Linked DNA regions of Homo sapiens: all the other regions are linked to region 2. Evidence: fine-mapped expression QTL. A gene starts in region 2. Each other region holds a variant in brackets. All regions are shown on one strand. Distances are between the middles of the regions.

Region 1 (4,101 bases), 390 kb after region 2:
GTTGACCTGCTAACATCATTGCCTCTGGCTGAGGAGGGGAAACCCACTTTGTACTTTATACTTTTGTTTCTGCACCCATTGATTTTTAAGCAAAAGCATGTATTACTATCCTAACCAACATAATTGAAAATTTCCAGAGAGCCCCTTCTGAGGGGGAGACTTTCATGGAAACTCAGAGAGGCTTCCATTAGTGACGGGAGAAACAGGCCTGGCCCTCCACACGGACACGCATCCGTCACAGCCAAGGATGAAGGCCTGTGTGCTGTGTGGTTGTCTTAGGCTGTTTTTATGAGACGGAGTCTTGCTCCGTCGCCCAGGCTGGAGTGCAGTGGCGTGATCTTGGCTCACTGCAAGCTCCACCTCCCAGGTTTCACGCCATTCTCCTGCCTCAGCCTCCCGAGAAGCTGGGACTACAGGCGCCCACCACCACGCCCGGCTAATTTTTTGTATTTTTTTAGTAGAGACGGGGTTTCACTGTGTTAGCCAGGATGGTCTCGATGTCCTGACCTCGTGATCCGCCCACCTCGTCCTCCCAATACTGGGTGAATTATCACACTTCTTTCTGACCATTCACTTTTCTGTCTTTGTAACAGCCATCAGGGTCTTTGAGAAAGTTTTGTAACTTAGTTCATTGATTTGGAAAATTATGCCAATAACCACCCTTCCTAGCAAACTGTCCCTGAAGAAGACCACGACAGTTCATTTAGTTTTCACAAACAGTATTAGGAGATGACTTGGAATTTTCTGGGGAAATCATTGAATATACTTCTGAGCGCAAACCCAGTGGCACAGGGAGTCCTTGGTCGCCAGGGCTGTCATCATTTCTGGAGGAGCCGTGTTGCACCTGGGGCCACTGAGACCCAGAAGGTGAGGCCGTCTGATGGGGCTATGGGGAGAATCCCACAAAACCACCATCACACACCCACGTTGGCCCCAGAGGTCCACTTTGTCATTTAAAGCTTACATAATAGAAATAGGGGACCCCTTGAAAACCTTTTCCTCTCTGATTTGGGAAGCTGAACTCTTTTTTCATGACACCAAAGCAAACGGCTTAGCAGTCAGGGTGGGGCTCTACTTTCCTCCCTCCTAGCCTGGTAGGAAAGTGCGTCCATGCGATTGGTGAATCAGAATGGGCCTTCTTCCTGCATATCATTTCTCCACTCCTTTCTTCTAATGGTGGGTGCCTCAGATCTGTCCTGTGGGAGAAAGGACTTCGCGGAGCTCTGTGGGGGCTGCAGCTGAGGAGAGTGCTGGAGTCTTCAGTCGGATCTGCCTTTCTTGCTGACTCAAGAAACAGTAAAAGGTGACAGGAAGGTGGCCCCGGAACAAATGGAGTCCCGCAGTGGCTCCAGCCATGTGGAATAAACCAAATTAGTGCTGGCAGAAACTGAACCTGGATTATGAGTGCTGGCAAAAATGTAAACAAAATTATTAAAAGAAAATTGAACAAACTGCAGTTTTCATCTCCTGTTAAGTGCTAAAGTGTGCCAAGTCCAACTTGTAAACAAACTAATGAGCTTGGCTTTAATTAATGTTAAAAAAGCTGGTTCGACAGAGCCTGAAGAGGCCTATAAATATTATTTTGAAGAGTATCCAAGACACTTAGAGCAGCTGTGTGAGCCTTTAGAATTGACATAGCTATTTTAATATATGCAGAGCTATTTTTAACCTTTCAGCACAGGCCAGTCAGAGTGGGAGCCCAAGGGCAGTGAAGCCGGGGTGCCCATCAGCTCCATCAGCCAGAATGCAACCTTGAAGGTCAAGGGCATTGGCGCAGCAGTGTCCTGGGGCAGTTGGAAAAGTACCACAAACCGGGGAGCTCAAAACCACAGAAATGTATCTTCTCTCAGCTCTGGAGGCCTGAAGTCCAAAATCAAGGTGCCAGCAAGGCTGTGCTCCCCCAACAGCTGGGAGGGTCCTCCCTGCCTCCTCAGCCTCCGAAGCTCCAGATGCTCCCGGGTTTGTGGATTC[A/G]CAGCTTCCATCTCTGCCTCCACCACCACATGGGCTCCTGTGTCACCCTTCTTCTTATAAGGACACAGTCACGACTTCATCCTAACTACAGTGGTCCTCGTTGTCTTCCATCTCACTTTTCTGGGTTTTAGTCACTCACGGTCAACCACGCTCCACAAATATTACATGGCTACACTTGTGCTTTGGGGGCATTATTAAGTAAAAGAAGGGTGACCTGAACACAAGCACTGTGACACCACAGCCCATCTGGTCACTAGGATGACTGCCAAGTGGCCAATGGCAACCCAGGCTTGGATGGGATGGCTCGGAACAGAATATAACTGAACACTGAGGAATTTTCTATTTCTGGAATTTTCCATCTACATCACAATGCCTGCATCTCTCACCTCCCTTCATCTCACCACGTGGCATTTTACAGCACTTTACATCATCACAAGAAGAAGGGAAAATACAGTATAGTAAGATATGTTGAGAGCGAGAGACCACATTCACATAACTTTTATTACAGTATATTGTTATAACTGTTCTATTTTATCATTGTTATTAATCTATTATTGTGCCTCATTTATAAATTAAACTTTATCGTATTTCTGTACACATGGGAAAAAACACAGTGTATATAGGGTTAGGTACTATCTGAGGTTTCAGACATCCACCAGGGCCTTGGAACATTTTCCCCAGGATAAGGGGTCACTATGGTAATTAGATCTGCAATGACCTTATTTCCAAATGATGTCATATTCTGAGGTGCTGAAGACTCAGATTTTAACATGTATTTTTGGGGAACACAACCAACCCATACCTTGAGTGACAAGGTAGCAGAGCTGGGAGGGACCTCAGGGGGAAGCATCTCTGCCCTGCTTGCTCCAAAGCTGCCACCTCAGCTGTATATCTCCCCAGGGTGGCGGGGCTGGAAGTGCATTCATCTCCTGGATGCTCTGTGGTCCGGGGGCAGCTCCAGGCAGGAGCATCCAGCTACCTTCGCAGGAAGTGGCCTCACTAGAGTAGAGGTGATGGGGTGGGAGCCGAGCCTCAACACGGGGGCCCTGGTGCGCATCCCTCTACCTCCTCAGAGGAGCCCACAGTCCAGCCTCCATCACACAGCCCAGAACGTGCCCTGGAAGAGCAACAAAACCTGGAGGCTCTGGCTGGAATGACCAGGGCTACAGCGTGCATGAAAAACAGATGACCGTGTTCTGTGGCAGCTGCTGCATGTGGGGGCCTCTTTGTCACAGCAGCTTAGACTTGGCCCTGAGCAGCACAGGGCAGGGTTGAGATGTGAGTCCGGTGTCTTGGACCTCAGACTCCTATGATGCTGCGAGGCCGCTGGTGGCTGGACTGTGGGGACCCACAGCCTCTCACACATTCACTCAACAGCCCCATGTTGTGCCTCCCTTGCTGGCCATGTCTGAGGCAAGCAACCACGGTCCCCATGGCCCTGGTGCCCTCACCCTATGGTGCCAGCTCAGCCATGTGGGTGTCTCCAGGATGCCATCGCCAGGGAGTTCACATGAGGTCAGCCTGCCAGTTGGGGCTGCGAAAGTCGGGCTCACATCCTGGCCAAAGCCTCAGAGTTGATGCTTCCTGTGTCTGTGTCTGAGAAATGAAAAAAACACAATAGGACAATGCTAATAAAAGGACCTTTAACATCTGGGGAGGAGAAGCGGCCAGGTGTTTTTTGAGTTAGAGGAAAATTACCCTAAAGGTTTTGCCACTTGTTTGACATTTTTGGGCTTGGTTCCCACAACCCAAGAGGGCCTGGCCTCCAGGCAGGGACATGTCTGTTCTAAGAGTGACTGTGTGAGAGCCCAGCCATGCCTGAAAATGGCAACAAGGTCGCCACACACTCCCTCCACCTTCCAAAATGAAACCAGGTTCTTGGGCCAAGCAAGAAAACTGGAATGCTGGCACAGGAGGTGTTTTCGACCTGCCTGCTTATCTAAGTTTCACATGCAGCTCCATTCATCATAGCAAGTGGTTTCCCTGCTGAACAAGGCAGGCAGGTCTGACAAACACAGTGGCTGCCAGATTCAGCAACACCGCTGATGGGTGGGGGACCATGCCTGTCTTTCCTTGTGATGGGGGAGAGACTAGTGTTTGGAGTTTGAGTGGGTTAGATGGCCCCCGAGG
Region 2 (4,101 bases):
TAGGGTCAACTTACCCGGGGCTGGCGGGCCAATCATGTTGATCGAATAAACTACGTAAGTTTATGGATCACTTTCACTCTGTTTCGGTATACAGCACGCTAGAGGGAGGGGGAGTTAAATTCATCCCTGCTCTTGGATCTCCAACCTCGGCAGCAGTGGAACGCTCCTCTCCAGCATCCTGAACATGTTCAAGTTTTCCCCAAACTAAGTTCCTGTCCACTCTGCCCCTGTCCTCCTAAAAGCTGGAGCAAGCTATCTCTACCTGCCCAGGTGTGCATCCTAACTCAGGCTACCTGGCTCCAGCCCGGCCTCCGCAGTGACCCCTAAAGGTCACAAAAGCTCGGCTGCTGCGGTCAGTGGGATCTTTTCAGCTGCTCTTTTGTTCAGCACTGCTGATGGCTCCCTCCTCCTTTAAACTCCATCCTCTTGGTTTCGACACATTCTAGTGTCCTGGTTTCTCCTACCAGCCCCCTCTCAGTCTCCTTTGTGGCTCTTCTCCCATCCTGAAGCTTGTCCTCACCCTCCACTCCCCTCTACACGTTACCGTGTCCCTTCTCCGGTGGCTCTCTGTGCCTTAGCCAGGACAATCTTTCAGCTCCTATACGTCATCATCGCCTACCACTAAGGGTCTGTGCATTCTGTTTCTTCTGCCTGGAGCCGCACACGGCTGGCTGCCCCGGAACCTCACTTTTTCTCTGGCTAATTTCCAGAGAAATTCTCCACAGTTCAACTCACACCCTCAGCATCTGACACCACTCCCACAGCCGCATCCTACAAGTTCCTGGAACCCGTGCCTTAGCCTTTGTCCCAACTGTGGTCAAACAATTGTGCATCTGGTGCCTGTCTCCCCTGCTGGGGCATCAACTCCCTCAACGCCAAGATCATGCCTGGCCCAGCACCAGTCACACCCAGCAGCACCTTGCTGGCCTCTGAACCGATGTGGACTGAATAAATCCCATCCATCACCATTTCCACCACATTTCAAAGTAACTGATGTGCACCTCCAGCAGCCTCCCTCCTGCGCTGCGGAACTCTACCAGCTCCACAGATGCACACCTACAGCCACGCTACAGCTCCCGGCTAGAGCCCGCGCTAGGGCCCCGCTGTGCCTCTCCCTCCCCTCCCGGCAGCAGGGCCTCCCCCGCGAATCTGAGCTTCTCGCGGATTCCTTCCTTGCGCTGTTTTGGTCAACAGCCTCAGCATCTGCACAGACGCCCGCAGGAGCAGCCGAGCCCTCGCCCGCCTCGACTGCCCGTTTCGAAGCCGCCCTGGGAAGCCCCCGGCCTGGGTTCCCGCTCGGCCCCGGCCCCTGCCCCAAGGCCCCTACAGTTCCTCCCGGCCCCCGCCCTCCGCTCACTCCCGGTCGTCCCTCGCGGCTCCGGGTCAAACCCGCGCTCCCCGCGGTCCCGCGCCTCCGACGCCACCGCTCCGGCTCGCGGGCCCGCGGCGCGTTCCTCCCTCGGATCCACGCGGAACGCCCCGCGCAGCTCGCTGGGCTCGGCCTCCCACATCCAGCGCGCCGCCTGCGCCGACCTTGGGGCCCGACCCCGACCCCGACCCCGACGGGCAGAGGCGACGCCGGGCCACCTACCATCTCCCCCGCGCCGCCCGCTTCTGGCCGGCCCCGGCCTTCTGCGCAGGCGCGGCGGCGGCTCCGCCCTCGTCCTCGGACGGCCGCGGCCCTCGGCTCCGGGGCAGTGCCGGGAGCCGGCCGCGGGGACTCCCACTCCCGGCATGCTCAGCGCCGCCCGGGGGCCCACGGGAGCTCGCGCCCCACAGCCCCTGCGCGTCCAGCCCTCTGCGAGGGCCTTGGCTCGCCCCTGCGGGGTCCAACGCCAGCCTGCGGCTGCCAGGCCCCACGCCGGCCAGGAAGTGCTCGCCGCCCGCGGCCGACGGGACCCGCCCACGCCCCGCCTCTTAAAGGGGGCAGTGACTGCGGCTGGGCGGGAGTCCGGGTCGGCTTGGCTGAGCGGGGGCGGTGCTGGGCAGGGCGGCGGCCGCTCCCTCCCGGACTCCCGGCCTCCCGGCCTCCCTGGTCCCGCCTGGGAAGGGATGCAAGGAAGCCCTCCGGCGCTGCGCTCCGAGGCGGGAGACAGCGTCCCCCTCCGCCCCTCGGGTCCTGGCGCCTCAGAGCCCGGCCCAGGCCGCGGAACGGTGATGCTCGGGCCGGACGGGCGGGCGCGGATCCCTGCGTCCCGGTGAGCACCAGGCCCGTCCATCCGGGGCTCTTTCCCGGGGTCCCCTTCCTTCCCTCCCTCCCTGGGGCTCCCCTCCCCTCTCTCCCTCCCCGGGGCTCACCTTCCCTTCTTCCCTTCCCAAGGGTCCCCTTCCTTCCTTCCCTCCCTCCCTGGGGCTCCCCTCTCTCCCTCCCCGGGGCTCCCATTCCCTTCTTCCCTTCCCAGGGGTCCCCTTCCTTCCTTCCCTCCCTCCCTGGGGCTCCCCTCCTCTCTCTCCCTCCCTGGGGCTCACCTCCCCTCTCTCTCTCCTCGGGGCTCCCCTTTTCTTGCAGGTATTGTCTCCCGGGGTCGGGTGGTCTGTGTGGCCTGGGGTCCCGCTCCTCCAGGCCTTGCCTAGGCGCTCTTCGCTGAGGCCCACGTTCTAACCTGGAATGGAACCTGCGTTCCCACCCTGGCCGCCCGGGTGGACTCGGGGCCTCCAGGGCCGGCCGCAGAGATGCAGCCCTGTCCCTGGCCCCCCTCCTGTGACTCCTAACGGCTCCTCACGGTGTCCATGACCCAGGGTGTGGACGCCTGCGCGGGGGAAGCAAGACCGCTGCGTATCGGGTCCCTATTCACTGCCTGTTTTTCTGATTATTCTGTCTTCCAAATTTATCTTATTTACCGGCTTTTTCAAAAGGAGTGTCTTAATGATTGGATTACTTGTGAAATATTTGTAGTTTTTTTCTCCTACAGGCTTGACTTAAATATTCTAAAGCTTTTTTGTGGTTGTTGAGACAGAGTTTTGCTGTCGCCCAGGCTGGAGTGCAGTGGCTGGTCAAGGCTCAAGCGATTCTCCCGCCTCAGCCTCCCCAGGAGCTGGGGCCACAGGGAGCATCACGCCCGGCTAATTATTTCATTTTTAATAGAGACAGGGTCTTGCTGTGTTGCCCAGGATGATCTCCAACTCCTGACCTCAAGCAGTTCGCCCACCTCAGCCTCCCAGAGCGCTGGGAATACAGATAATTGTGTCGTAATACAGCAGTGGCATTAACCACCGCACCTGGTCTTAGGTAGAATTTGAAAACCTTTTTATTTTGAGATGGTTGTAGATCACATGAAGTTGTAAGGAGTAATACAGAGAAATCCTACAGAGTGCCTTTGCCCTGTTTTCTCCAATGGTAGCACCTTGCAAAACCATAGTATATGTGGGGAATTTTCTTTGATCAAATCCCCTGACCTGTTGAGATTGCACCAACTATACATGCACTAGTGAGTGTGAATCTACACCTGTGTGTCTTCTCAATAAAATTGAGATTTTTTTTCACTCAGCCTTGAGATACATCCGCATTGTTATGTGTATCAATTGCTCAAGATGCAGAAATTCTAAGAATTCATTATTTAAAAAGTAATCCCAGCACTTTGGGAGGCTGAGGTGGGTGGATCACCTGAGGTCAGGAGTTTGAGACCAGCCTGGCCAACATGGCAAAACACCGTCTCTACTAAAAATACAAAAATTAGCTGGGTGTGGTGGCGAGCGCCTGTAATTCCAGCTACTTGGGAGGCTGAGGCAGGAGAATTGCTTGAACCCGGGAGGCAAAGGTTGCAGTGAGCTGAGATCACAACACTGCACTCCAGCCTGGGTGACAAGAGCAAAACTCCGTCTCAAACAGCAACAACAACAAAAAAAACACATTACAGGAATCCAAAGTGTCTTTTTAATAACTAGAACAGCTAAAGATGTTTACTAATTTGCTCAAAAAACATGCTACAATTTAGTAGTCAGTAGGATTTTGGAGGCAAGTTTGAAGATAAAATGAAATGAGTTTGAATAAAGGTGATTTGTATTTTAAGGGTCCATAAATAATTTCAGTTTCATGTTATGAGTATGTTTCAGTGGGAAATTTTAGTATAACTACAACTAAAATCCTCAAAGGTTTCTCAT
Region 3 (4,101 bases), 46 kb after region 2:
GGCGTGAACGCGGGAGGCGGAGCTTGCAGTGAGCCAAGATCGTGCCACTGCACTCCAGCCTGGGCGACAGAGCAAGACCCCATATCAAAACAAACAAAACTGTGATGATAAAAAGCGCCATAAACACTAATATCAAACCATGCTACTCTGTCTTAAATTTTCAAATAGCTTTGCACCTGAAATACAAAATTAAGTTTGGAAAAACAGTTTTTAACTGTGTTGCTCACAAGCTAATTAACTGTATAAGTTCTGCCATGTGAAAGGTTAAAAAATAAAGTTCATTTTGGAAAGTGGGCTTCTGCTTACCGAGACGACAGTCTTTACATGAGAGTGGCGGGAGATGCTCCTGGACCCCCATAGAGTCTCAGTAGTCCTGACAGCGCACCTGGGCACCGTCACCATTGTCCCAACAGTGCACCTGTGCACCGTCACTGTTCAGCCCGGCAGGTGCTCTTCCTGCTGTTTATCCCAGAGAAATGAAGCCGTGTTCACACAGTAGCCTGTACACAGGTGTTTATAGCAGCTTTATTCGTATTAGCCATAAACAGTCCAAAGGTACTTCAGTGGGTAAATAAATGTTCAACAAACTGAGCTATGTCCATACCACGGAACGCCACCCAGCAGTAAAACCACCGGCACACACCTCCGAGAACTGCGCAGAGTGGGCAGGCAGCCCCCAAAGGCTGCGTACTGTGTGGTTCTTTTTATGTCACATTTATGAGGCGAGAAGATTCTGAAGTTGAGGAAAGGCTCGTGGTTCCCAGGAATTGAGGATGGGCAGTCTGGGGAGGGGCTGGGGATGGCACTCGCTGTCTTCGCTGTGTCTGTATCGGCACCTGAGTGGGGGTCTGGGGAGGGGATGGGGATGGCATTCGCTGTGTTTGCTGTGTCTATATCGGCACCTGAGTCGGGGTCTGGGGAGGGACTGGGGATGGATGGCACTCGCTGTCTTTGCTGTGTCCGTATCAGCACCTGAGTGGGATCTTGTGCTGTAATTTGGCAAGATGTTACCATTGGGGAAACTAAAGGGTAATGAGGACTTTGTATTACTCTTAAAACTGCAGGTTAATATATAATTATCTCAAAATAAAAAGTTTCCGGCTGGGCGCGGTGGCTCACGCCTGTAATCGCAGCACTTTGGGAGGCCGAGGTGGGTAGATCTTCTGAGGTCAGGAGTTCGAGACCAGCTTGGCCAACATGGTGAAACCCCGTCTCTACCAAAAATACAAAAATTACCTGGGCATGGTGGCGCCTGCCTGCAGTCCCAGACACTTGGGAGGCTGAGGCAAGAGAATCACTTGAACCCAGGAGGCAGAGGCAGAGTTGATAGAGCAAGACTGCCTCAAAAAAAAAAAAGTTTCCATTTAAAAAAAGTAAATTAACAAAAATTGTTTCTTATATATAATTGCCTGCTAATGTTTTGTAAACCTGGGAGGAAATTATGATTTGCTTCTGGTTGTAGTGATTTTAACTATTTCAAGAGTGTGACTTATTTAAATTCTTACATTGTTTTATCCATTCCAGAGTATTTTTCTCTTTGAAAATAACTCCCAGCAGAATTGTCTTATCTGGACAACTTCCGTGTTGCCCTCCCAGTGGCTTCTTCCATTACAGTGACTCTGCCCGGCTCTCAGGTTTTCTCGCTCTCTGGGCAGCCCTCACCGTGCACCTGCTGCCAGCTGCTTGGGGTGCTGGGCCTTCTGCACATCTGCACCCGATGCCACAATGTATTCTTTCCACTGTTCAGTCTTAGGATTCGTTTCCATTTAGAGCTGCTGCCCATTCTCGTGTTTCTGGAAGGTGCTTTCACTGCTGATGAGCCTAGTAGAGTGCCTGTGGAGGTAGGGTTGCAGGGCCACAGTAAACAGGAGCTCAGCCGTAGCCATGACGTGGGTTTCCCCAAAGTCGCCATGCCAGCCCGTCCTGCTGCTGTGCCGTGAGCACGCCGTGCCCCACAGCCTCCTTGCACTTGCTCCAGGAGTGGAGCATCTCAGGGCTCTGATGGGGGCTCCAGCGTCCACTTCCCGATGGCTGGTCCCTCAAGCCCTTTCCAAAGCTCAGTGGCACCTGGGTGTTGTCCTGGCGGTGTTCCTATTAAAGCCTCCAGGTCGTTATTCTGTAGGGTGAGGATTCTCTTCTCATTTGTAGGAATTATTTTTTATATGCCGGCAGATTTTTTTGTCCTTCTTA[A/C]AAATTTATTTACTGAGATGAAATTCACATAAAATTCGCCATTTTAATCATTTGAAAGTCAGCCTTCAAAATGTTTTGCCACCATCACCACTACCCAATTATATCCACCTCCCCAAAGGAATCCCCATGGCGCTCAGTTCTCCCCCCAGCTCCTCGAGGCCATGGAGCCACTTCCTGGCCCCGTGGGCCGCTGCTTCTGGCCGTGTCGCGTGGCGGCTTCCGTGTCTGGCTTCCACTTAGCACCACGTCCTCCAGGCCTGGCCGCGTCGCCGTGCGCACCAGCACTTCGCCCCTTTTTATGGCTGAAAAACATTCCATTCCAGCATGTCAGATATGTTTTTGCAAATGTCTTGCAGTTTGTGACTCGCCTTTTCACTCTCTTAACGGTGTCTTTTGATGAACAGAAGTTCTTAATTTCAGCATCATCGCTTATGAATTGTTTTCTTCGTGGCTATCTTCTGTGTTCTGTGTGAAAGATCCGCCTGCCCCTGGGTCGTGAAGATGCTCTTTACTGTTGTCAGTGAGCGTTCTGCTGTGCTTTTCTCATTAGATCTTCAGTCCACCCAGAGGTGAGCTTCGGTTGTGTTGGAAGTGAGGGAGTGGATGAGGATTCATTCATTCACATGCGTTTCTGAATGCCATGCGTTGAAAAGACCTCCTTCCCCCCTTCTATAGCATCACCCTGTCAAAAACCAAGTAGCCGTGTGTGTGTGCGTGCATGTGCATGTGTGTGTTCTTTGTGCATGGCATGTGTACCTGTGTGCATGCATGTGTGTGCTTTGTGGTGTGTACATGTATGCTTTGTGGTGTGTGTACATGTGTGTGCTTTGTGGCATGTGTACATGTGTGGGGTATGCTTTATGTGATGTGTGTACATGTGCATGCATTCGTTTGCCTTGTGTGGAATGTTACATGTGCATGTATGTGTTTGTGCATGCATGTGTGTGCTTTGGTGTGGCATGTGTACATGCATGAATGTGTACTTTATGTGGTGTGTGGTTTGTGTACGTGTGTGTGGCATGTGTGCATGCATACATATGTGCTTTGTGTGGTGTGTGTGTGGTATGTGTTCGTGTGTGTCTGCTTTGTGTGTGGTGTGTGTACCCGTGGCACATGTGCGTGTGTGTGTGTGTGCACATGCCCCTCTGACTCTGCCCACCTGCCCTCGGCTGCACCGCAGCTTGATCTCCGTGTTTGGGTCCAGCTTTGTTCTGTGCTAGGGTCGTCTTGGCTCTATTCGTGCTCTTTCCAAATTCCACTCGAGTTTTTAGATTCAGCTGGTCAGTTTCACACACATGAGTCTCTTGGCGCTCCTGTGCGTCTGTTGGCCAGGGGAGGGAGCATCCGCCGCTCCGCCGTGCTGAGCCCTTGGCGCTGTCATCTGAGTCTTCCGTCTTTCGTGGGTCTCTGTGTCTTGCAGTGTCAGGTGCAGGCCTTCTTTTGGGTTGAATCCTCAGGATGTGATGTTTTTGTTGCCATTATAAATCGTAGTTCTTTACAAGTTTCTTTTCTTTTCGTCTGATGCTGCTATCGTCTACAGTTTTGTTTTCTCAAGATAAAAATCATCTTTCAGGTTGGCCGGTGTCAGCCGTGCGTCATCCGGAAGGCTGCCATAAGCCTGCGTTTCGCAGAGCTGCGCTGAGGCTCCCGTGTCGCGGCCGTCCGGCCGGCGCGCTGATGTGGCTGCAAACCTGGGTATCAGATCAGCCGCCGTGGACACGCCGATGCTTCTCGCTGGCTTCGTGCCCTCCCGGGGCTGTTGCTTGTCGTCCTGTCGCTTTCTCTCTGCTTTGAGGCTGGTAGTGGGAATGCGTTTCTAACACTCCCACCGGGCTATTCTGATTCAAGGTCAAGAAAATGTATCACAAATATTTAAAACAGTTGGAAAATATTCTCATTCAAAAATTTCAG

Direction of the effects. Alleles are on the strand shown, and positions count from the first base shown. SD is a standard deviation of normalised expression in the study named. Not every link is listed here.
For the expression in caudate of the gene that starts at base 1,636 in region 2, A is the high allele of the variant in region 3 and C is the other (moderate effect, 0.41 SD a copy in GTEx).

What was found. PIP is the estimated chance that this variant, and not a neighbour inherited with it, causes the effect.
Region 1: its variant is the best candidate, but not a certain one, in a credible set for the expression of DCUN1D2 in nucleus accumbens (GTEx, PIP 0.77).
Region 3: its variant is the best candidate, but not a certain one, in a credible set for the expression of DCUN1D2 in caudate (GTEx, PIP 0.87).

The regions. Positions count from the first base shown.
Region 1 is chr13:113,877,926-113,882,026 of GRCh38, forward strand. LINC00454 (long intergenic non-protein coding RNA 454) reads right to left here. Exons shown (of 3, transcript NR_047035.1): 2 at 3,423-3,567; 3 at 703-1,407. Among named protein-coding and RNA genes, the nearest start is that of LINC00454, 3.5 kb to the right of the region's middle. The variant A/G (reference allele first, on the strand shown) is at 1,972.
Region 2 is chr13:113,489,076-113,493,176 of GRCh38, forward strand. DCUN1D2 (defective in cullin neddylation 1 domain containing 2) reads right to left here and starts at 1,636. Exons shown (of 7, transcript NM_001014283.2): 1 at 1,592-1,636. The coding sequence starts at 1,594. SLC9D1 (solute carrier family 9 member D1) reads left to right here and starts at 1,946. Exons shown (of 13, transcript NM_017905.6): 1 at 1,946-2,198. RefSeq lists an enhancer at 807-1,106 and a silencer at 1,337-2,256.
Region 3 is chr13:113,534,997-113,539,097 of GRCh38, forward strand. The region is part of intron 9 of SLC9D1 (solute carrier family 9 member D1); the gene reads left to right. Among named protein-coding and RNA genes, the nearest start is that of SLC9D1, 46 kb to the left of the region's middle. RefSeq lists a silencer at 3,454-3,642. The variant A/C (reference allele first, on the strand shown) is at 2,191.